Homo sapiens: one gene and its partners. The protein of the gene in region 1 purifies or fractionates together with the protein of each later gene. This does not show direct contact. Each region holds a gene or a part of one and is shown in the gene's direction. Other genes may lie near its edges. The genes, in order: ITFG1, LMAN2L, HNRNPR, AIFM1, NIPSNAP1, RFC3 and PCMT1.

What was found.
Region 2: the proteins of ITFG1 (region 1) and LMAN2L purify together in Homo sapiens (affinity purification with mass spectrometry; 2 studies listed by BioGRID and IntAct, with this or other methods). This does not show direct contact.
Region 3: the proteins of ITFG1 (region 1) and HNRNPR purify together in Homo sapiens (affinity purification with mass spectrometry, with the first as the bait; one large-scale study listed by BioGRID). This does not show direct contact.
Region 4: the proteins of ITFG1 (region 1) and AIFM1 purify together in Homo sapiens (affinity purification with mass spectrometry, with the first as the bait; one large-scale study listed by BioGRID). This does not show direct contact.
Region 5: the proteins of ITFG1 (region 1) and NIPSNAP1 purify together in Homo sapiens (affinity purification with mass spectrometry, with the first as the bait; one large-scale study listed by BioGRID). This does not show direct contact.
Region 6: the proteins of ITFG1 (region 1) and RFC3 purify together in Homo sapiens (affinity purification with mass spectrometry, with the first as the bait; one large-scale study listed by BioGRID). This does not show direct contact.
Region 7: the proteins of ITFG1 (region 1) and PCMT1 purify together in Homo sapiens (affinity purification with mass spectrometry, with the first as the bait; one large-scale study listed by BioGRID). This does not show direct contact.

Annotation. Positions count from the first base shown.
Region 1 is NC_000016.10:47,157,064-47,160,563, reverse strand, and holds part of ITFG1 (T-cell immunomodulatory protein isoform 1 precursor), read left to right. Parts: intron 1-1,573; coding exon 1,574-1,691; intron 1,692-2,959; exon of another isoform or gene 2,960-3,009; intron 3,010-3,500. UniProt on the Homo sapiens protein: Modulator of T-cell function. Has a protective effect in graft versus host disease model.
Region 2 is NC_000002.12:96,705,429-96,709,064, reverse strand, and holds the end of LMAN2L (VIP36-like protein isoform 2 precursor), read left to right. Parts: intron 1-1,231; coding exon 1,232-1,351; intron 1,352-1,666; coding exon 1,667-1,809; 3' UTR 1,810-3,136; downstream 3,137-3,636. UniProt on the Homo sapiens protein: May be involved in the regulation of export from the endoplasmic reticulum of a subset of glycoproteins. May function as a regulator of ERGIC-53.
Region 3 is NC_000001.11:23,313,285-23,316,784, reverse strand, and holds part of HNRNPR (heterogeneous nuclear ribonucleoprotein R), read left to right. Parts: intron 1-3,082; coding exon 3,083-3,232; intron 3,233-3,500. UniProt on the Homo sapiens protein: Component of ribonucleosomes, which are complexes of at least 20 other different heterogeneous nuclear ribonucleoproteins (hnRNP). hnRNP play an important role in processing of precursor mRNA in the nucleus.
Region 4 is NC_000023.11:130,131,852-130,134,841, reverse strand, and holds part of AIFM1 (apoptosis-inducing factor 1, mitochondrial isoform AIF precursor), read left to right. Parts: intron 1-1,386; coding exon 1,387-1,529; intron 1,530-2,990. UniProt on the Homo sapiens protein: Functions both as NADH oxidoreductase and as regulator of apoptosis.
Region 5 is NC_000022.11:29,564,114-29,567,613, reverse strand, and holds part of NIPSNAP1 (protein NipSnap homolog 1), read left to right. Parts: intron 1-3,500.
Region 6 is NC_000013.11:33,831,649-33,835,148, forward strand, and holds part of RFC3 (replication factor C subunit 3), read left to right. Parts: intron 1-3,499; coding exon 3,500-3,500. UniProt on the Homo sapiens protein: Subunit of the replication factor C (RFC) complex which acts during elongation of primed DNA templates by DNA polymerases delta and epsilon, and is necessary for ATP-dependent loading of proliferating cell nuclear antigen (PCNA) onto primed DNA.
Region 7 is NC_000006.12:149,791,241-149,794,740, forward strand, and holds part of PCMT1 (protein-L-isoaspartate(D-aspartate) O-methyltransferase), read left to right. Parts: intron 1-2,308; coding exon 2,309-2,429; intron 2,430-3,500. UniProt on the Homo sapiens protein: Initiates the repair of damaged proteins by catalyzing methyl esterification of L-isoaspartyl and D-aspartyl residues produced by spontaneous isomerization and racemization of L-aspartyl and L-asparaginyl residues in aging peptides and proteins.

The DNA of each region.
Region 1 (3,500 bases):
TGTTAGTTTTCTATAGATGAAATTTACAGTAAAACTAGAAAATCTGGACCATGAGTAGGAAACTATATAAAGTACGGTACTTCTATACAGCTCAGTAGCATGATTTTTTTTCACTGCCACGGACATAGAACAGTCTCTTAAGATGGAGTGGTAAGCAAAAAACAATAACAACAACAACAAACAAAAGAAGCAACAGCAAAATGTAGAAGAGTATGTATAATAAGCAGCCATTGTGATTTAAAAAGAAGCCATCTATACATACATGTTCATACATGTATAAAATATCTCTGAAAGGATATGCAGGAAACTGGTAAGAGTGACTGCCTCTGAGGAGAAAACTGAGGATTGACTTTTGTCTTTTTTTTTTTTTTTTTTTACCAAAACACTTACATTCCTGATTTGTTAAAAATCTATTTTAAAAGTAGAACTACCAAAAACATCTCATAAAAGAACTGTTTTCTTAAGTATGAGTATAACACTAAGAGTAGCTTTCAACTAATTAACAGTATTTGTTTTCTTAAGGTTTACTTACTCTTCTGAATTTCCAGAAAATTATACCATAGCTTTTTTCCGTAATCTCAACATTTTTCATGTTTCTCTTACTCTTTCCAAAGAAATGTTCTTTTCAAATTTATGTACATAATAAAAACCAAATTGATTTTAGTTTTTGAGGTGTATTTTGAGGTTATTGACTAGAAGCTAACTTATGGATCAATAAATTTTAATTATCCCAGAATAAATCAATAGCTACTTGCTATTTACCAGAACAGTCTTACCTTTATTAAACTTTTAAAATAAAAATATAGCCATTACCTATTTCTAGGAAGAACAAAAAGTTATGTGTATATAACAACCTTCACACTTGGTGATACAGTCCTTAGTTTTAGGCTTTCAGGGTGTGCAAATGCTATATTACATGGACTGTTTTAGAAGGAAAGAACTAGTTCTGTTTACTAAAGACCTCTAGTCTGTATATTGCCATTAACAGTGAGGGACTAAAGATGATTTTGTAAGTGATCTGAACCTAAAAGTCATTGTAGTAATGTAAACACTCCAACATGATATAAAAATTATAGAAGTTTTGCACAAGCCATCAACATTTATGTTTTACTTGGTCACATTATATATGTGACACAGGTCAAAAATAAGATGATACAGAAGGCTTCTAGGATCATGTGACTACCTTGCTTTAGAGTTCAGGTTTTCAAATTAAGCAGGTAAATCAAGATGTAAAAAAGATGTCTATGATTATCCAAAGTACCCTTGGATATGTTTACCTAAAAATAATTCTCATAGGATCAAACTTGGAAAATGAAAAATATTGAAATATCTCATCAAAAATTCTATTTCAGTTGTCTAGGTAAAATATAAACTGCAGAATCATCAATATTCTCAGCACTATCTGATTTTTAATTGTTTTTGTTTTATTTATAATGAATGGACTGATGAATGAATGGTTTAATGAATACATTGACTGTTTAATTAATAAGCTATTTTGCTTTGGGGTCTCAATATAACTTTGTTATTTTTAAATAAAATTTGTAATTTTAATTTGTTCTGTTTTTATCTACAGTTGGAGTGCCAAACTGTATCTTACACCAAGTAATATTGTTCTGCTTACTGCTATAGCTCTCATCGGTGTCTGTGTTTTCATCTTGGCAATAATTGGCATTTTACATTGGCAGGAAAAGGTTTGTTCATTTAAAGGAAGCATTAATTTTGGTTAATTTATTCTAGTAATACATACATTGCTCTTTAAAAACACTATATTTATTTTAAACTTTTTTCATATGACTAGAATTTCATCATTTTTCAAGTTCTGTTCAAAGCATCATTTTATTGATGATAATTTCTTTTATCCCTGGAAGTTACTAATGTCTCCTATCAATTCATACAAATCACAAGAGATGTCTACTTTAAAAGTTTGATGCAGTACGGTAGTAATAAAGTGATCAACCGGAAATCAAAAGGCATTTAGAAACAATTTCATAATGACCTGAAAAATAATAATGATTTTAAAAAATGAACGTGTGTTCAGTATGTACTGATAAAGCCATGGACATTCTTTGGCTAGGATTATCAGCTATCTCTTTGAAAAGAATTAGAGTGAAAAGAGGTTAAATTATTTTCTTGAGGTTTAGGTGGAAGGTAACAACTGAAGCAATAAACAGCCAGGCATGGTGGCTCATGCCTGTAATCCCAGCACTTTGGGAGGCCAAGGTGGACAGATTGCTGGAGCTCAGGAGTTTGAGACCATCCTGGGCAACATGATGAAACCCCGTCTCTACAGAATACACAAAAATTAGCCAGGCACCATGATGCAAGCCTGTAATCTCAGCTACTCAGGAGGCTGAGGTCGGAGAATCACCTGAGCCCAGAAAGTTGAGGGTACAGTGAGCTGCGATTGTACCACTTCACTCCAGCCTGGGCAAAAGGAGTGAGACCCTGTCTCAAAAAAAGAAAAAAGCCATAAACATCTTTTTCATCTATCAAGTATTCTTTGCATTAAACTGATTTCTGTTCTTTAGTATAATACTCTAAATAATAATTGAAAACAAAACTCCCAAATATGTAAAAGATTTTTATGCAAAGAAAAAAGAGGCTATCACTGTAAATTAGCAGTTTAGATATATGTGAAAAAGCTAGTTTCTATTTATATATGGGTTCCAATCAATGCCCTCAAAAAAGGGCTGCTTTGTGGCCCCAAAGAAAGGTGTTTTTCTTTTTTTGCACCTACACTCTGGATTGACATGCCATCATAATCATTTTTTGCTAGAATTACCGTGTTTGTTCTTTTAACATATGAAAAAGAACATATTAGTTGTTCTATAAATGCTCATAGGCTTGTCACTTTTAAAAAATCACTCCTTTACATATCAAAAACAGTAACATGAAGTTACATATTCAATTAACCTTAAGATTGCAACTTAAGAGTAAGATCAAGGACAACCATACATACTTGGTCCAGAAGTATCAGAATATCATCTGAAAGATTCCACAGTTCTTGACCTGTGAAGCAAAGGAAATGAATTTCATTAATTCCTCAGTAGATCTGATTACAGCATAAACATTGCGTGCTTATAACAATAATTATGCAGTGGCCAAAAATGAAAGTTTTAAGTACAAGTATATATTTGACTATATATATACTGTATCTCCTGTGGCACTGTGGTATCTCAAAGAGGTAGAACCTCTTTAACCACTTTTTTACTTAAGCAGGCTGGCTCCTTCTACCATTTTCTCAATGCAGGCTTTCCCCAGTGTCTGCCCCTGGCCCTCTTCTTTCAACACTTTCCCTGCCAATTTCATCTAAAATCATGGCTTCAGATATCCCCAGCTCTCATCTCTAAAGGTCCTTCCCCATTTCCAACTGTCACCATGATAGCTCAACCTAGATGACTTACAGCACCTCAAAACCAGCATTCTAAAGCTTCATCTCTCTTACTTAACCTACAAGATTTCATCACTTGCCTATGGACTCTGCCTCTGTAAGAAGTTCT
Region 2 (3,636 bases), on another chromosome or scaffold:
TGCATGCCTGTAATCCCAGCTACTTGGGAGGCTGAGGCAGGGGAATTGCTTGAACCTGGGAGGCAGAGGTTGCAGTGAGCCGAGATCGTGCCATTGCACTCCAGCCTGGGCAACAAGAGCAAAACTCTGTCTCAAAAAAAAAAAAAAAAAAAAAAAGTCTAACTTCAGTGCATTGCAACACATCAGATATGGTTAAATGTAGGAGTTTATAATGATACTTTAAAGAGAGAAATCTAGTCCCTAATTGCTTGATCTTCTCTCTGGTAATTATTAGGGAGATTAAGAGTCACAAGTACAAGAAGCCACAGAGAAACAGGCATAGTCTAGAAGGGCAGTGTATCCCATGCCCATAGCTGTGCCCTGCCCATGGCCCATTAAACAGCGGCCATGAGACCTTTTCCTGTTGTACGTGTGTGTGTGTGCACGTGTGTGGTCTTCACCAGCGGGGAAGCTGCAGTCCTACTTTGTCTGTTCTTACTGTGCTGGAAGGTTTAACATATGGGATTTAATTGTGGTTTTATCTCCAAATTTTTTAATTATACAGATGCGTCTTGACATACAATGGCGTTATGTCCCAATAAACTCATTGTAGGTTGTAGATATTGTAAGTTGAAAATGCATTCAATACACCTACCCTACTGAACATCATAGCTTAGCCTAGTCTACCTTAAATGTGCTTAGAACATTTACATTAGCCTACAGTTGGGCAAAATCATCTAACACAAAGCCTATTCTGTAACAAAGTGTTGAATGTCTGATGTAACGTATGGAATACAGTACACGATGCAGTACTGGTTGTTTACCCTTGTGATTGTGTGGCTCACTGGGAGCTACAGCTCACTGCTGCTGCCCAGCCTCAGTACAGAGTGTTGTACTACACATCGCTAGCCTGGGAAAAGATCAAAACTCAAATTTTGAAGTATGGTTTCTGCTAAGCGCAGATTACTTTCACACCATCATAAAGTTGGAAAATTGTAAGTCGAACCATTTTAAGTCAGCGATCTTCTATACAGGTAATGCATGCTTGTTGATAAAAACTTAAATACAGAAGATATAGAATATGCCTTGTTCCCCATCCTTATTTTTAGTTGCAAAATGGAGAGGTTTCAATTATTTTTTCAAGGTCACTGCTGGTTAGCTGTGGATCAGAGGCTTGAACTAAGATACTGACTTCAAGAAACATACCTCTTTTTCAAGTGGCACAAGTCATCCTTCTTCCATTTTTCTTCAGATAATCATGATGTCATTTCCTTGAAGTTGTTTGAACTGACAGTGGAGAGAACCCCAGAAGAGGAAAAGCTCCATCGAGATGTGTTCTTGCCCTCAGTGGACAATATGAAGCTGCCTGAGAGTGAGCACAGGGGCCCGCGGGAAATGGTCCCATAGTTGGGGAGGAGCTTGCAGTGCTGTACCCATAGCTCACAGGGCGGTCTCTGCTCTGTGTTCTTCTTCTGAAGGGTAGGGAGCACTTTCATCTGCCTTTCCCCTTCAAGTTACAGATGAGCAGCAGGAGGGCCGCTTTGTTTCTCAGTTGGAAAGAGGGGGTCTAAGCTCTGGCTTCCCAGAAGTAGGTGTCAGAAACTGGGGGCCGGACAGCCTATAGTTTGATCCTTCCCTATTGGGTGGGCTCCCTGTTTTCTGACTTGCTTCTCTCTTGCTTCCTCAGTGACAGCTCCACTGCCGCCCCTGAGTGGCCTGGCCCTCTTCCTCATCGTCTTTTTCTCCCTGGTGTTTTCTGTATTTGCCATAGTCATTGGTATCATACTCTACAACAAATGGCAGGAACAGAGCCGAAAGCGCTTCTACTGAGCCCTCCTGCTGCCACCACTTTTGTGACTGTCACCCATGAGGTATGGAAGGAGCAGGCACTGGCCTGAGCATGCAGCCTGGAGAGTGTTCTTGTCTCTAGCAGCTGGTTGGGGACTATATTCTGTCACTGGAGTTTTGAATGCAGGGACCCCGCATTCCCATGGTTGTGCATGGGGACATCTAACTCTGGTCTGGGAAGCCACCCACCCCAGGGCAATGCTGCTGTGATGTGCCTTTCCCTGCAGTCCTTCCATGTGGGAGCAGAGGTGTGAAGAGAATTTACGTGGTTGTGATGCCAAAATCACAGAACAGAATTTCATAGCCCAGGCTGCCGTGTTGTTTGACTCAGAAGGCCCTTCTACTTCAGTTTTGAATCCACAAAGAATTAAAAACTGGTAACACCACAGGCTTTCTGACCATCCATTCGTTGGGTTTTGCATTTGACCCAACCCTCTGCCTACCTGAGGAGCTTTCTTTGGAAACCAGGATGGAAACTTCTTCCCTGCCTTACCTTCCTTTCACTCCATTCATTGTCCTCTCTGTGTGCAACCTGAGCTGGGAAAGGCATTTGGATGCCTCTCTGTTGGGGCCTGGGGCTGCAGAACACACCTGCGTTTCACTGGCCTTCATTAGGTGGCCCTAGGGAGATGGCTTTCTGCTTTGGATCACTGTTCCCTAGCATGGGTCTTGGGTCTATTGGCATGTCCATGGCCTTCCCAATCAAGTCTCTTCAGGCCCTCAGTGAAGTTTGGCTAAAGGTTGGTGTAAAAATCAAGAGAAGCCTGGAAGACATCATGGATGCCATGGATTAGCTGTGCAACTGACCAGCTCCAGGTTTGATCAAACCAAAAGCAACATTTGTCATGTGGTCTGACCATGTGGAGATGTTTCTGGACTTGCTAGAGCCTGCTTAGCTGCATGTTTTGTAGTTACGATTTTTGGAATCCCACTTTGAGTGCTGAAAGTGTAAGGAAGCTTTCTTCTTACACCTTGGGCTTGGATATTGCCCAGAGAAGAAATTTGGCTTTTTTTTTCTTAATGGACAAGAGACAGTTGCTGTTCTCATGTTCCAAGTCTGAGAGCAACAGACCCTCATCATCTGTGCCTGGAAGAGTTCACTGTCATTGAGCAGCACAGCCTGAGTGCTGGCCTCTGTCAACCCTTATTCCACTGCCTTATTTGACAAGGGGTTACATGCTGCTCACCTTACTGCCCTGGGATTAAATCAGTTACAGGCCAGAGTCTCCTTGGAGGGCCTGGAACTCTGAGTCCTCCTATGAACCTCTGTAGCCTAAATGAAATTCTTAAAATCACCGATGGAACCAAACATGAGCTTCTGACTGTGTTCTTTCTTCTAGGAGTGGGTTTGGGGAAAGTTCAGGCCTTTATTCTGAGCAGGCCTTTTTTTTGAGCTTCAAGCCCATCAACCGTTGTTTTGCCTTCTCCTGGGTTGGAAAAGCCCTCAGCTCAGCTCAGAAGGAAAGGGGGTCACCTTGGCTAGGCAGAGGTCTCTGTCTCTTCAGGCTTTCTTTCCTTCCCATGCACTTAAACAGCACAGGCTATAGTGCTCTCCTGCAGGTGGGATTCAGGTGGAGGCATCTTCCTCCCACCTCCCCTCCACAATAGTAGAATGGCTCCAGGGTGCCAGAGGACAAACTGACCTAGAGCTTGGCCTTGGAGCAGGGAGAACTGAAAAAGAAAATGGTGGTTTTGTCTTTTTTGAGTTGAAGGGGAGATTGTATGGACCCGTGGGAGGACCTAGGTGGGCTCTTGAGATGGCCAAGGCAGCAGTGCAGGTGGAAGGGGTCTCATCAGAGGGGAGGGGCA
Region 3 (3,500 bases), on another chromosome or scaffold:
TGATTTTAATTCCTATTGTTTCTTCTCCTAATACAACTATGACTTTGGGTAAACTACTGAACATGAATGTCATCTATTTTATTGAGCCTGGATCAATCTCTAAGATCCACCACAACTTTGAATCTACCTGTAGTAACTAAGTATAGCCTGTATTACTTTTTCTGTAAAAATATTTTAAAATAGTATTATAGATGTATTATAATAGAGGAATAAAATATTATAAAAGAGGAATAAAATCCCATGAAAACCAAAAGTATAGCTTGTAATTTGCTTACCAGCCACTTCTCACATAACCTTTAGTAACTGCTCAGATGGAAGTTCATCCTAATCTTTTTTTAGGGTTAGAAAACTTCAAGATTTCATTCTGGTAACTCCTTTTTCCTAGATCTAAAACAGGTTTCAGAATGAAAAGGAGGTCTCTATAAACTTAGGATTAAATATTATGGAGCCCTTTATTGTTTCTTTTTTTTAAAAGATGGGGTCTCATGTTGCCCAGGCTGGAGTGCAGTAGCTGCCCACATGTGCAGTCATAGCACACTGCAGCCTTGAACTCCTGGGCTTAAGCGTCCCTCCTGCTTCAGCCTCCCGGGTGCTTGCAACCCCATCCAGCTCCTTTATTGTTTCCTAATTGAAAAGAAAAGTTTATCCATTTGAGTAAAGCTTCTGTTATTCACACTATCAATTTACAATTCACTGAAGATTTTTTTTGCCAAGTTGGGTCAGTTTTACAATGTACCATAACCTAAAAGCCTAAATATATGTCTCTTAAAGGGACCCTTTTTCCTGTTGAACATTTTAAACACAATTTCAGTAAGTAATTTTCACATAGTATGTTATCGTTTCATCATAGAAAAGTCCATGTTGAATTTTTTTTAAAAAGCAACTAAACCAGTGGGAGTCTGTGTAACATAGAGGCTGGACCTTAGTATGACAAATTGAGAATAATAAAGGGGATGGAGCGTTTGTGGAAAATGTTAGTTTTTTTCCTCCTTAAATTAGTATCTTCTTATTAGATAGCCCTTTATCTGAAGCAACAATTTGTTCAATATGTTAGTTTTTTATTTGGATAGGTACTATGTTTTCTTAGTTCAAAAGTTATATAGAAAAGTATAGACAAAGAAATTTCCTTTCTACCCCTATCCCTGTGTCTACCAAATCCCCTTTGTCTCCTATAAGGCATCCAGTTTTAATAGTTGCTGGTTTCCTTTTAGTATTTCCTTCGGCAAATATGGATATACTTCCTTAATTCTTAGATGAGTGGTAGTAATGTTGGTAGCCTACCATATCCACTGATCTACCTTTTGTTTATTCACCATCCTGTTTCATCAGCTCTGAGGAAATACATCATTACTATATGTACTACTAAATAGTTAAAAAACACTGCCAACTAAACTATGGCACAGTACTTGCTTATCACATTGACTGTAAGTTGTCCTATCCTACAACTCATAGAGCTCCTCTTCATTTTTTGGGTTTTTGTTTTTTTTTTTTTTTTTTTTTTTTTTGAGACGGAGCCTTGCTCTGTCACCCAGGCTGGAGTGCAGTGGTGTAATCTTGGCTCACTGCAGCCTCTGCCTCCCGGGTTCAAGTGATTCTCCTGCCTCAGCTTCCCGAGTAGCTGGGGTTATAGGTGCCTCCTACCACGCCCGGCTAATTTTTGTATTTTTAGTAGAGACAGGGTTTCACCATGCTGGCCAGGCTGGTCTTGAACTCCCAACCTCAGGTGATCTGCCCACCTCGGCCTCCCAAAGTGCTGGGATTACAGGCGTGAGCCACCGCGCCCAGCCCTCTTCTTCATTTTTTATGACTACATAGTAGTCTATTCTGTGGAGGTACTATAGTGTATTTAACCAGCTGGATATTGTTTCTAATCTTTTGCTCTTACAGTGCTGGAAGGAATAAGCTTATGTTAGTTGATACAAGTGGAGATATATCTGTAGGATAGATTCTTAGGGGTAGAATTGTGGGCCAAAGGGTAGATATATCTGTAATTGTTAAGATACTGCCATATTCCTTTCTGTAGGAGATACACTATTTTACATTCCTACCAGCAAAATACAAGAGAATTATTTTCCTCATTCTTGACAAAATAGTGTATAATCAAACTTTTGAATTTTGCCAGCCTGATAACAAATGTCTCAGTGCCATTAATGATTAATGATTTGCTTCTCTTACTATGAATGGTTTGAACTTTAAATATATTTTAAGAGCCATATGTGTTTCTGTGTATGAACCATGTATTCAGGAATTTTGCCTATTTTTCTATTCAGTTGTTGAGCTTTTTGTTATTTTCTGGTGCTCTGATATAAAAGAGAGATTAGCTGTTTGTGATACATGTTGCAAATTTTTCATCCATATTTATTGTCTTTGCTTATAGTATTTTTTTGCCATATAGAAGTCATTTATTTTTAGTAGTTGAGTATAACATTCTTATGGCTCCTAGATTTTAAGTCATAAGGTCATCCCCACTCCAGTGTTATATAAAGGAATCATTCTTGTTCTAAAATTTCACAGTCCTCCCTCCACCCTTTTATTATTTAAATTTTCAATCTATTTGGAGTTTATCCTTGTGTATAGTGTAAGGCATGGACCAGCTTTTCTCCTTTTTTTCTAATTTAACACTACCTGATTTAATGATTTAAGCATTATAGTTTGTTTATATTTGGTAGGGCCAGCCTCTAAATTTCACTCTTTTTTTTCCTGGTTATTCTTGCTTATTTATTTTTTCATATGAACTTTTGAAAGTTACTCAGTTTTAGAGGAAAGAAACAGAAAAACTTGTTTTGAAAGGGACTTTTTGTTGATTAACTTGGTAATAATAATTATGTGTTGGTTCCTTGAAGGTTCTACTCAGTGTTAGGTGCTTTAATGACAACATAGGAGAAGGCAGGAACCAATAATTTTTGTAAATTGGTGACTGATATCAGTGTCATTTTCCTAGCAATTTCTCTTACTACCTGTAACAACACTTTTAGCACTTAATGTTTTAGAGGAGAAAAGCTATGCTATGAAGACAGGAAGAAACACTTTTCAGGTAAAATTAAGTAGCCAATGACGGTTTTGTTTATTTGTTGCTTACTAGGTAAAAGTTTTGTTTGTGAGAAACTTGGCTACTACGGTGACAGAAGAAATATTGGAAAAGTCATTTTCTGAATTTGGAAAACTCGAAAGAGTAAAGAAGTTGAAAGATTATGCATTTGTTCATTTTGAAGACAGAGGAGCAGCTGTTAAGGTAGGAATTTTGAAATTTTGGTTCTTGATATTTGAATTTTGTTTTTGAAACTTGCCAAACACAAAGTAACTTTAAAAACTGAAACAATATTGGTTGTCAGCTTTTGCTGAACTCTTTCTATTTAATCTCTGTAAAGTGGTAATAGTATGTAACAGATAAGACTCCATATTTCAAAGCCAGGTTATTACTGAGTTTGTGATCTTAGGCAAGTTATTTTTAATCTCTGTATTGTTTTGTAAGATTCGATAGCATGATGCCTTGGAAGTAT
Region 4 (2,990 bases), on another chromosome or scaffold:
TATATTCCATTAAGCGAATTTCACAGTTTACGGTTGCTCACTCGTTGGATTTTTAGGTTGCTTTGGGGGAGTCTAAATAGCCACAAAGATGAACAAAGGGTTAGAGAGCTCAAATGCCACATCCTTCATGAAGCTGGTCCAGTTCACCCCCGGCTGGAGGTTCTCGCCCTCTGCTTGAAATACTTGACTCCTTTAATCTGTACCTCTCATATGGCACACTACTGTTTACATTGCTCTGTAGTTGTGAGCAAGGCTGTATCTTTCTGTACTAGGTTGTATGCTCCTCATAGTCAAGGTCCATGTCAGTTTTGTCTCAGCAACCCGGACAACATAATACTTTTGTATATAATAAGTACTCCATAAATATTTGTCGAATGAATGAATACTGAGTGACAAAAAGAAATCTAAGAAAACATTTCTAGGTGAGAGGCAGTCACATCCAAAAACTGGTTTCTACATATAGAAAAGAATATTCTGCAAATCATGGTTATTAAATATCCTGTCTGTTAAGGAAAGAACAGGAAGTAGACATAAGTAAACAAAACTATAGAAGATTTAGGTTAGCTTTATGGAAGCAGAATAGATTTTTTTTTCTTTTTTTTTTTGAGGCGGTGTCTCGCTCTGTTTCCCAGTCTGGAGTTCAGTGGCACGATCTCAGCTCACTGCAACCTCCGCCTCCTGGGTTCAAGCCATTCTCCTGTCTCAGCCTCCCAAGTAGCTGGGATTACAGGCGCTTGCCACCACACACGCCTAATTTTTTGTATTTTTAGTAGAGATGGGGTTTCACCATATTGGCCAGGCTTGTCTCGAACTCCTTGTGATCCACCCACCTTGGTCTCCCAAAGTGCTGGGATTACGGGCATTTGCCACTGCACCTGGCCTGGAATAGATGTTTTAAAATGAGATCTCAGGCCAGGCGTGGTGACTCATGCCTGTAATCCCAGCACTTTGGAAGGCTGAGGCAGGCACATTGCTTGAGCCCAGGAGTTCAAAACCAGCCTGCGCAACATGGCAACACCCCATCTCTACCAAAAAAAAAAAAAAAATTTAGCCAGGCATGGTGGTGCATTCCTGTAGTCCCAGCTACTTGGGAGGCTGAGGCGGGAGGATCATCTGAGCCTGGAGGTCCAGGCTGTGGTGAGCCATGATCGCACCACTGCACTCCAGCCCAGGCAATAGAGTGAGACCCTGTCTAAAAGAAAAAAAAAAAATTTAAATGGGTTATCAGCTGTTTTTGTTAGTTTAAGTACAACTCTGGCCTGTAGATGGAAAACATGAATTAGTTACCATTACAAGTGTTCTTTGAGCCCCCAAAGTTTATATTTTGTCTTTAACTTGCTTTTTTTTTTTTTATCATGTGTTCATGTTATGTATTTGTTTCCACAGGCAGGAGATGCTGCATGCTTCTACGATATAAAGTTGGGAAGGAGGCGGGTAGAGCACCATGATCACGCTGTTGTGAGTGGAAGATTGGCTGGAGAAAATATGACTGGAGCTGCTAAGCCGTACTGGCATCAGTCAATGTTCTGGTAATAGTGGTGTGCCTTGGAGACCCAACTGATTACAACTCAGTATCTCTAGGACCATAACACAGAGTTATGGTTTGGTTTTATTATGAGCCAGTTAGCTTCATACAGAAGGGAAAAAAGTCCATCTTATGTCCACACATTCTACCCTCAGGTAGCCATCTGGCAGAAGTGTCCTGTTTAGTTTTTCACCAAACTGATCCTTTTGTAAAACATTAAAAGAGAAAAAAATTATTTTAAGTGTTCTGTCTGGCGTATGTTAGACTAGGTGAATGAATGGAGATGGCACCAGCACTTCCGGCAAAATAGGTCAGAGGCCGAGGTGGGCGGATCACGAGGCCAGGAGTTTGAGACCAGCCTGACCAACATGGTGAAACCCCGTCTCTACTAAAAATACAAAAATTAGCTGGACGTGGTGGTGCATGCCTGTAATCCCAGCTACTCGGTAGGCTGAGGCAGGAGAATTGCTTGGACCCAGGAGGTGGAGGTTGCAGTGAGCCGAGATCACACCACTGCACTCCGGCCTGGGTGACAGAGCGAGACTCCGTCTCAAAAAAAAAAAAAAAAAAAAAAGGAGTGTCAGAAAGCATTCCAGTCCTAAAAGATGAAGGCTGGTCTGGTATGGTTGCTCATGCCTCTAATCCCAGCACTTTGGGAGGCCAAGGCCGGGGGATTGCTTGAGCCCAGAAGTTCGAGACCAACCTGGACAACATAGCAAGAGCTCGTCTGAATTTTTTAAATAAAAAGTTTTTAAAAGTTAAAAAAAAGAAAAGTGGAGGCTAAGGGGAAATACTGTAGGTTAATGAAGCCATAAAACATCTCAAATTCTGAATTCCATAAATGTGGAACACTCTTTAAAGCTTCAAAAAGGGAATTTCAAGACAAAAGTAGTGAATAGCAAAAGTGGGAACCTCATCACTTTCCAAATGTGGCATGGGATAAAAGCACGAATAAATTCAAGAACGTTTCAATCACCGCATGGATATGTGGTCGTGTATAATGGCTTTTTAAGGAAAAGTCAAAGCTATTAGGGTTAATCTTACTTTCTCATGGTCATCCCTAGATGCTCTAGCAACAGCAGATCAGTTGGCATCTCTCGTGATCTGCATACTAAGTTCTTTGGTTGGCATAAGAGTGCGGTGTTGGTCGGGTGCGGTGGCTCACATCTGTAATCCCTGCACTTTGGGAGGCCAAGGCGGGCAGATTACTTGAGGTCAGGAGTTCAAGACCAGCCTGGCCAACATGGTAAAACCCCGTCTCTACTAAAAATACAAAAATTAGCCAGGGTGGTAGTGGGTGCCTGTAATCCCAGCTACTCAGGAGGCTGAGGCTGGAGAATCACTTGAACCCAGGAGGGAGAGGTTGCAATGAACTGAGTTCGCACCCATTGCACTCCAGCCTGGGCAACGAGTGAAACTCCGTCTCAAAAAAAAAAAAATGCAGTGTCATGGAGAATATGTGCTA
Region 5 (3,500 bases), on another chromosome or scaffold:
CCCAAAGTGCTGGGAGTACAGGCATGAGCCACAGTGCCTGGACTATTCACTTTTCTATTTTGGCATAGATGTCACCTCCTCCTGGAAGGCTGCCGAGATTTCCTCCACGCGGGCTGGGTCAGGCACCTTCCTTAGCTCTCCAGGCCTCAGTAATTACCTCCTCACGCCCTGATCATGTACCCCTATAGCTGCCTGTTTAGTTGTCTGTCTCCATATATGGGTGAATCCCCAATATGCAGCACATATTTGTGGAATAAATAGGAGTTCTTCTTGTCTGAGCTGGTGTCTTACAGTCCCAGGGGCACCCCTAGCATGCCCCATCCCAGCCTAATAGACACATCAAAGTTGGCACCAGCTATAAGAACCCACACATGAATTTGGCTGACTCACAGCATCTCAGCCACTCAAAGGGACCTCAAATTCAGACCCACACTGTCCAAAATGATAGCCACTAACCACATGTAGTTATTTATTTATTTATTTTTTTGAGATGGAGCCTCGCTCTGTACTGTCACCCAGGCTGGGGTACAGTGGTGCAATCTTGGCTCACTGCAACCTCTGCCTCCTGGGTTCAAGTGATTCTCCTGCCTCAGCCTCCTGAGTAGCTGAGGTTACAGGCGTGTGCCACCACACTTGGCTAATTTTTGTATTTTTAGTAGAAACAGGGTTTCACCATGTTGGTCAGGCTGGTCTTGAACTCCTGACCTCATGATCCTCCCGCCTGAGCCTCCCAAAGTGTTGGGATTACAGGCATCAGCCACTGCGCCTGGCCTATTTATTTATTTTTTTGAGACAGCGTCTCACTCTGGTTTCCCAGGCTGGACTGCAGTGGTGCAATCACAGCTCACTGCACCCTTGACCTCCCGGGCTCAGATGATTCTCTCACCTCAGCCTCCCAAGTAGCTGGAACTACAGGTGTGCACCACCACAGCCAGCTAATTTTTTATATTTTTAGTAGAGACAGGGTTTCGCTATGTTGCCCAGGCTGGTCTTGAACTCCTGGACTCAAGCAATCCGTCAGCCTTGGCCTCCTGGACTACTGAGATTACAGGTGTGAGCCACTGCGCCCTGGCCTCACATGTAGCTATTGAAATTTATATTAGTTAAAATTACATAAAATTTAAAGTTCAAGCTGTGTGCCAAGGTGCTCACCTGTAGTCCTAGCTACTTGGGAGGCTGAGTTGGGAGGACTGCTTGAGCCCAGGAGTTCGAGGCCGTGATTGAATACCATCACACCTATGAATAGCCACTGCACTCCAGCCTGGGCAACACAGTGAGGACCCTGTCTCTAAAAAAGAAAAAATTCAGGACTGAATATGGTGGCTTATGCTTATAATCCCAGCAGATTAGGAGGCTGAGGTGGGAGGAACACTTGAGGCCAGGAGTTTGAAACCAGCCTGGGCAACATAGTGAGACTTTGCTTCTATAAAGAAAATACATATTAAAAAAAAAAGAAGAAAAGATTTTAAAAAGAAAAAATTCAGTTTCTTAGTCATACTAGCTACATTTCAAATGCTCACTCATATACACACAGGCTCATGCAGAAAGTACTTTTGGACAGTACTGGTTTAGAGTGTCTGCATAGCACAGCCATAACAGATGGTCCTCTAAACTTCCCTTGAACACTCCTAGCCATGAAGAGTTCACTTGTAAGCCAATCTATTTCATCCTTTGACAGCCCTGATAATCGTGTCTTTGAAAATAATCTGTGACCTGCAGATAGATAGGTGTATCTCCTTAATCAATTATTTGGTTTCCGTAACAGACATTAACATATTATTTATGTTTTATTTTTATTATTTCCATTTAGAAACAGGGTCTCACTATATTGCCCAGGCTGGAGTTGAATTTCTGGGCTCGGGCAATCCTCCTGAGTAGCTGGGACTACAGGCGTGTGCCATCATACCTGGCTAGACACTGATATGTGGCTAAGGGAATAAGAGAAAAGCAAATTGCCTTCAGTTTCAGCCACTACAGCTTTCCCATTTTAAGCTTGACTTGATCAGCTCCAGCAGTATTCCTTGAATTCTCTTAAGCATTTGCTAGTTGTGAAATGAACTCTGAGGGATGGGATCCTGACTTTTTCTTTTTTTTCTTTTTCGAGACCGAGTCTCACTCTGTTGCCCAGGCTGGAGTGCAGTGGCGTGATCTCAGCTCACTGCAACCTCTGCCTCCCGGATTCAAGCAAGTTCTCTTGCCTCAGGCTCCCGAGTAGCTGGGACTACAAGTATGAACCACCATGCCTGGCTAATTTTTGTATTTTTAGTAGAGATGGAGTTTCACCATCTTGGCCAGGCTGGTCTCGAACTCCTGACCACAGTTGATCCACCTGCCTCGGCCTCCCAAAGTGCTGGGATTAAAGGCGTGAGCCACTGCCCCTGGCCTTTTTCTTCTTTTTATTTTTCTGTTTGGGACAGGGTCTCGCTCTGTCACCCAGTTTGGAGTGCAGTGGCATGATCATAGTTCACTGTAACCTTGAACTCCTAGGCTCAGGCGATCCTCTCACCTCAACTTCTCGAGTAGCTGGGACCACAGACATGCACCACCATGCCTGGGCTAGTTGTTTTGTTTTGTTTGTTTGTTTGTTTTGTAGAGATGAGGTCTTGCTATGTTGCCCAGGCTGATCTCAGACTCCTGAGCTCAAGTGCTCCTCTCCTGCCTCAGCCTCCCAGAGTGTTGGGATTACAGGCCTGAGCCACTGCGCCTGGCTGATCCTGACTTTTTAAAGCATACCCTACATTTTTTGTACCTTGAAGTTCAGTCCCTCACATAGTCAGCTGAATCATGTTGAGCTGTACGCTGGGAGTAGGGTTCAAGAATCTACATTTTAATAAACTTGTAAGAACCATTGATCCATCTCCTATGGAGAGCACCACAGTTGTTAGACAATTCCTTCTTCTTGGCTGGGCGCGGTGGCTCATGCCTGTATCCCAGCACTTTGGGAGGCTGAGGCAGGTGCATCACCTGAGGTCAGGAGTTCAAGACCAGCCTGGCTAACAAGGTGAAACCCTGTCTCTACTAAAAATACAAAAATTAGCTGGGCGTGGTGGCATGCGCCTGTAATCCCAGCTACTTGGGAGGCATAGGCAGGACAGTCTCTTAAATCCAGGAGGTGGATGTTGCAGTGAGCTGAGATCACGCCACCGCACTCCAGCCTGGGTGACAGAAAAATAAAGAAAATTCCTTCCTCTTGCCAATGATGCTGTCCTTGTAACTTTTCTCCGTTAATCCGTTTTCCACAGGTCATTCCTGGTTTTGGTAGATTTCTATCCATACAGTACTTTTGCCATTTCCTTTGGGAAAAAGACCTTTAAACCATAGGGTCAGGCCATTTTGCAGATGGGAAAATCAAGGCACAGATGGAGTCAAAAAACAGGTGAAGGTCAGGCTGGGGATGGGGATGGGAAGTTACAGAGTCTGAGTTTCTAGACTGCTGGCAGCCAGCTGCCCTTAGCTCTAGCTTGCCTGTGTGATCCCCTGGGGACCTTCCTCCGCTGATG
Region 6 (3,500 bases), on another chromosome or scaffold:
CATACAACACAAAGCTAGAGATAATGTGCGTAGCTTTCTAGTAAAGGACAATGTAAAACTTTGTAATCAATGATGCATCATGTGCTAGAAAGACACCAGACTATAAGTCAGACTTCTAGTTCTTGTCCTGAACTCCTAGCTAAGTGTTCTTGATCAGGTAACTTCATTTTAGAGTTTTATCTTCATTTGTATATTGAAGATATTATTATTGCCTCACCAAGGGTACTTTTGCATTTGTTGTGAAGAGCAAAAGAGTTATTAATGGTTTGAAAACTAAAAAACCCTGTGCTTATAGATGACCATGCGTTCTACTAAGGATAGCATTGTGTATATACCATTTTTACTCAGGAAGTATTTTTTGACACATTTGCTCAAAATTGCTTCCGTTACTTCTGTAGGTCTATTATTTGTAGGTTGACCATTCTGAAAATACCTCAGCTGCTAGTTGTTTGACTTATGGCAGCTTCGATTGAGAAACACAGTTTGCTTTCCTCCAAATAAAAAATGACAATGTTAAGGCCCACTAACTTTGGAGAGTATGAAGAAGGTTCCTCAGACTTGGCTAAAGCACAGTCTCATATCCTTGTTGGGTTTCTGAACTGAGAAATGATCTTTGGACCTTACAGAGGGTAGTTGATCATTTTAGGGTTCAGAATAAACTGAGTTCAGTCTATAGACTGAATAGACTGCAGCCAATAGAGCTTACTCTTCCTTGGTCTAATGAAAATAATAGAGGAATATGCCATGTTTCTCCTTTTGTTGATACATCTGATGAATTCTAATTTTTTAAGAAATTCTTCAAAGGTATTGTAACATGTATTCCCTGGTTACCATATAGATTGGTGGAGGTGGATAGTGGATCATACATAGTGGGTACTTAGTATTTCATTTAAGGTTTGCTTTGAATTCTCAGAATTCAATTATTTTAGTTGAAGAAATCGATAGTTTTCTCCAAGAAGTACCAAATGTTATAAGTAGTCTCATTAGAAAAGAAACTTCATCTTTAGGAAAAATATGTTCATTTTATTTTGTAAAATGTTGATTATCAATAAAGAGACCTCACCCTTTAAAGAGATAAAATTCAAATAAAGCATGTCTTAGGTGCCTTTTACTTTTATAAAATATTTCTACACTGAAGATGACTTTCTTGTTTTTGTTCTGATATTAAAGAAGAAAAATTGATAGCAATATAACTTACCTACTTTTAGGGGATTTAGGTACTTGAGGTTGTAATGTTTGATAATTATCACGTGCTTTTATAAAACTACTTGATTATTCCTTTGCTTAATTCTTCTAGCTGCTGTTACAAATTTCTTCTGGTTTTCCTAACACATTTTGACGGCTTATAAATGAACTTGTGCAGGAAGCGGTGCTCCTGTTTCCTGTTTAAACCAACAATTGTAGGAATTGATTCCATTGTGCTACATAAAAAGAAATTTTGCTCAATTCCAGAAAGCCTTGGGGCTGGCCAGAAATCCTGGAAGTCTGGTATCTTTCTGATCACTGGGCTACACAATTCCAAATGATTACTTCTGATTTCTGACTCCTTTGTCTTGCTGGAATATTTGTGGTCTCGATTTTTCATTTGATCTGTCTTAGAACAGTCATAATTTTCTAATTTGAATAGCAGCGAATATTTCATGAATGATTATGTCAGCTCTTACACCGTGTTATTTAATTGATATAACACACCTATGAGAAAAATATTAACTTTTTAGATTAAAAAAAAAACCCTGACATTTATGGAGATTAGGTACCTTGTTCAGGTACATTCCATTATTATAATAGAGACAGTTCTAGGATACCCATGTTTCTCTGACAGAAGAGTTTGTACTCTTAATCACTTGTAAGCTATTAGGAAATAATGACACAGACATGGTAAATGTAGAATATGTTAATTTTGTAAAACAGTAATGTTAGAAGTTAACTCAAGACTAACACAAGATGCATGTTAACATGTATGCACTACACACAGTATAGTTACTTCAATTGTATAGGTAACTACATCCTGAATCAACTTTTCAGAAGTAAGCTATATACATATATTAAAATAATTTCATACCATATGAAATTATTTTTATTATTCATGCTTTAATAATCAAGTTTTATTCTTGGGATGTCAGAGAAATCACAGGCTTTTGAGTCAGGCCTGAATTCAAATGCTGGCTCAAATACACAAGTCTTGATGGAAGCCTGACCTGTCTGAACTTCAGGTTTGTTTCAGTAAAAGAGCATCATTGTTGTGGGGAATTAATAGTGTATTGCAGCGAACCTAGTACAGAATTAAGGTGTTAAATACTTTCACAGACATTGGAAAGGGTGTGGACTTTGGAGTAAGAAAGATAGATCTGTGTTAAATCATGCTTTGCTGTGGTCAGTTCTGTCAGTTACTTAAACCATCTGGGCCTTAGTTTTTTCATCTGAAATAAATGGGCTAGTGTAAGTACTGAGTTAAATTATTTGTTTCAATTCTTACACATAGCAGATGCCCCAGAAATGCTAGTTCTTTTTTTTTTTCCCCCACTTTTTTTAAGATTTAATGTGCCAGGGCTTCATATTCCTGACGTCTTAGGATTGACTTCTGCTTTTTAAGAATTCTTATAAATCACTACCTGGATTTATCTGAAGTATGGAACATCTGTACTGTGTGTATATATATATATATATATATATATATATATATCTGTACTGTAAAAATTCAGAAGTTTTTCCCTTTAAGAATGTGTATTTGGAACTTTCTCTCTTTTTTTTTTTTTTCTGTTTTAAAACGTCATATGTACATTTCCCTCCTCTTCCCCTTTCTCTCCCTAGAATATGAGAAGGGCCTAGAATGAAGGACTCAGAGGTTTGAATGTTCCTATTCGCTTAGCCTGGTTGCGTGCTTACCTGTAAACCTTTGTGCCGCCCCTTTTATGACAGGGACAGCTCTGTATCCCTGCCACATTGCTTTTTTACTGTGCAATCTAGGCAGTGGCATTGTATTATATTTCATGCGTATATTATCTTGTGTCACCTATGTAATTGACTTTTTAATCTTTTCATGACCATTTCCTGGATGTTTCAGGTATCTGTCTGGAGAAAAGAAAAACATATTACTTGACATGTCATTAAAGTTTGTTAAATTCCATGGTGTGAATAAGCTCAACCCGCGCTCTTCATGAAGTCTCAATTTCTATCTGGTATTTTCATGGTGTTTTGATATAATTAGGAACCCTGAATATAGACGTCTCATTTTAAAAGAGTTCTGAAAATGTTCTGTTTCAAAAATGAACTGAAGTTAGGAGAAGCCTCCATATGTTTATCCTAAGTATGGTAAACTATTTAAGAAACAGTTATTATTTCTTACTGGATTGTTTGTTAATTCATAAAGTTAGGTCATAAAGTTGTTAATTCTGTATTGGATTGTTTGTTAATTCATAAAGTAAAACCATACAGTGGGAATTTGGAAAAATTACCTCTTATTTTCTTCACAAAATACCAATTATTTTGTTTTATGTAGG
Region 7 (3,500 bases), on another chromosome or scaffold:
AGAATGAGCCTGGTTTCTAAACATTCCTGCAGATTTACCAGGATGAAGGTAAAACTTCTGCATTAGAAAAAGTGCTCTTAGAAAAATAATGCCTTGTTATACTTCTGCCTTTTCTCATCAGAGTCTTATCTGGTCAATGGCTATCCAGAGTATTAACTGGGGACCCACTAATATATGTTGGAGTAAAGGTTGATCATTGCTTAGATCATCACATCAGTTTGATTTGAGAAATATCGTGCCTGGAGGACAGATTGGAATATTCTGATCTAGTTAAATTGGGAGTTGTGGATCCACCTTGGACTAGAATCCATGTAACTTGCTATAAATGTATAATCAGCAGACTTACTAGAATGTAAGCTCCAGGGAGTTGGAAATTTTGTCTGCTCTTTTTTATCATGATGGTATCCTAAACATCTAAAACAATGCCTGGCACATAATAAGGACTCATATTTTCTCAGATGTTTTGCTCATTTTGTAGAGGTTAAGTCCTCATTAATGGATATCAGTGATTTTTTTTAAGGTTAGAAATGCCATTTAATAAATGACTCATTCTCTATACTTGACATGTTTATAGTTTTAGAGGATGTATTCATTTTAAAAAATCATTTGGTTTCTGAGTTGTTTTTCATAAAATGGCATTAATGTTTTTCACACATTTACCATGTGTGAAAGTACTTTGTGTTTTAAGCACTAGAGCCTGTGTTCTAAGTGCTACCCCATTTTTATGATGGGGTTTATGCCTTTTTCCTCCCCATTTTGTACTGAGGAACCTGATTCATACAAGGAATGATAGGCCGGGTGTGGTGGCTCACGCCTGTAATCCCAGCACTTTGGGAGGCCGAGGCAGGTGGATCACCTGAGGTCTGGAGTTCGAGACCAGCCTGGCCAACATGGTGAAACCCCGTCTCCACTAAAAATACAAAAATTAGCTGGGTGTGGTGGCACACGCCTGTAATCCCAGCTATTTGGGAGGCTGAGGCAGGAGAATTGCTTGAGCCCGGGAGACAGAGGTTGCAGTGAGCTGAGATCACGCCACTGTACTCCAGCCTGGCCAACAAAGCGAGACTTTATCTCAAAAAAAAAAGAAGGAACGGTTAACTTGCCAAGGTATGTATGTATGTAAGTGATGACACTTAGACAAGAACCCAGATAGTTTGACTTCAAAGCCTTTATGTGTTAATTTTTTAAATTTTTATATTTTTTCTTGAAACATTTATACTTAATATTTTAATTTACAAATAAATATGCAAAGAAGGGATTTTTGTTGTTGTTGCTTTTTGTTTGTTTTCTGAGACAGGGTCTCAGTCTGTCATCCAGGCTGGAGTGCAGTGGCACGATCTCAACTCACTGCAGCCTCTGCCTCCCAGGCTCAAGTGATCCTCACACCACATCAGCCTCCTAAGTAGCTGGGACTTAGGAGGCACATGCTACCACACCTGGCTAGTTTTTGTATTCTTTTGTAGAGATGGGGTTTTGCCATGTTGCTCAGGCTGGTCTCAAACTCCTGGGCTCAAGCAGTCTACCTGCCTCTGCCTCCCAAAGTGCTGGGATTATAGGTGTGAGCCACTGTATATATTTTCATGTTTTCTACTAAAAGCAGTAGAAACAAGTGTAGAAATTCCTTCCCATCAGGCGGGAGGCAGGGTGTGTGGTGGCTCAGTCCTGTAATCCCAGCACTCTGGGAGGCCAAGGCGGGCAGATCACGAGGTCAGGAATTTGAGACCAGCCTGACCAACGTGGTGAAACCCTGTCTCTACTAAAAATACAAAAAAATTAGCTGGGCATGGTGGCGGGGGCCTGTAGTCCCAGCTACTCAGGAGGCTGAGGCAGGAGAATTGCTTGAACCTGGGAGGCAGAGGTTGCAGTGAGCTGAGATCGTGCCACTGTACTCCAGCCTGGGTGACAGAGCGAGACTCTCTCTCAAAAAAAAAAAAAAAGAAATTCCTCCCTGTCAAATTCTTTATGTAACATTTTAATATTTAAAGTTATACTTTAGATGGAATTTAAATAAAAAATTATTGTACTACTATTAAATATTGGTAATTTTCTTCAAAGTTCTAGATTTAATCTAAGAAAGATATAATTTTTCTTAGTATTACAAGTTTTATTCAATGAGAGTGATAGTTGAGAAAGTTGTATATATGGTAAATAATTTATGATAAACTGAGTGTTTAGCAATCTATAGAAGCCTTAAGCTATTTTTGTTTTCTCTTTGTAGAATATGACTTTCGATAAGGAAAAACTTCAATAATACTTTAGAAAAACAAATTTAGCCCAATGAGCTACTGAATTGTTTTCTCTTTTCCAGGTTGGATGTACTGGAAAAGTCATAGGAATTGATCACATTAAAGAGCTAGTAGATGACTCAGTAAATAATGTCAGGAAGGACGATCCAACACTTCTGTCTTCAGGGAGAGTACAGCTTGTTGGTAAGTATCAGAAAACTTTAAAAATTTCTTCAGAGGATTTTTATTTTCAGAAGATCCAATGCAAGCTAAATAATACTCAGAGGTAATTATTGTATTTTTTTTTACAATCACTTTTAAGTACTAAAAAATAAAAACGATTATTTTTGCTCACCTAGTGTGTATTTTGCAGCCATCTCTTTGTGAGTTTAATTTTGTATTTTCCTATTAACCTCTGAGATTGAATTTTTTGTAATGTGTCTGACCATTAGGATTTTGTCTTTTGTGAAGTACCTGTTCAGATATTGGATTGCTTGTATTTTTGACTTACAGGGCTTCTAGCCCTTTGTCTATATATATAAATACATTTCTTCTCCCATCTGAGGTGTGCCTTTTCATCTTATTGGTACCCTTTTGATAATAGAAATTCTTAATTTTAATGTAGTCAGACTTACCAATTTTTTTCAGTGCTTTCTGTGTCCTTTTTAAGGATACTCTGAGACCATGAAGATATGTCTCTTATTATTTCTTAGAACCTTTATCATTTTTAGCTTTTCATGTTTAGGTTTTTGATCTTCCTGATGTTGGTTTTTGTGTATGTGTGAGGTAAAGGTGCAGTTATATGTTTTTGTGTATGAATATCCAGTTGTATTCCCCAGACACACTCAGTTTTGTTTAAAAGATAAAATATTGGCCAGGAGCGGTGGCTCACACCTGTAATCCCAGCACTTTGGGAGGCTGAGGTGGGCAGATCATGAGGTCAAGAGTTTGAGACCAGCCTGACCAACATGGTGAAACTCCGTCTCTACTAAAAATACAAAAATAAGCTGGGCGTGGTGGCGCACGCCTGTAGTCCTAGCTACTCGGGAGGCTGAGGCAGGAGAATCGCTTGAACCCGAGAGGTGGAGGTTGCAGTAAGCTGAGATCGCACCACTGAACTACAGTCTGGCGACAGAGCTAGAGTCCGTCTCAAAAAAACAAATAAAATAAAATAAAGGCCCGGGCAGCTCTAGTAGCCACAGCCATCCCCTAGAGGGATCTGGCTGAGGAGGAAGTGGAGGTGTTGCTTGCCTTGGCCTTTGCCCTGATCCTGTG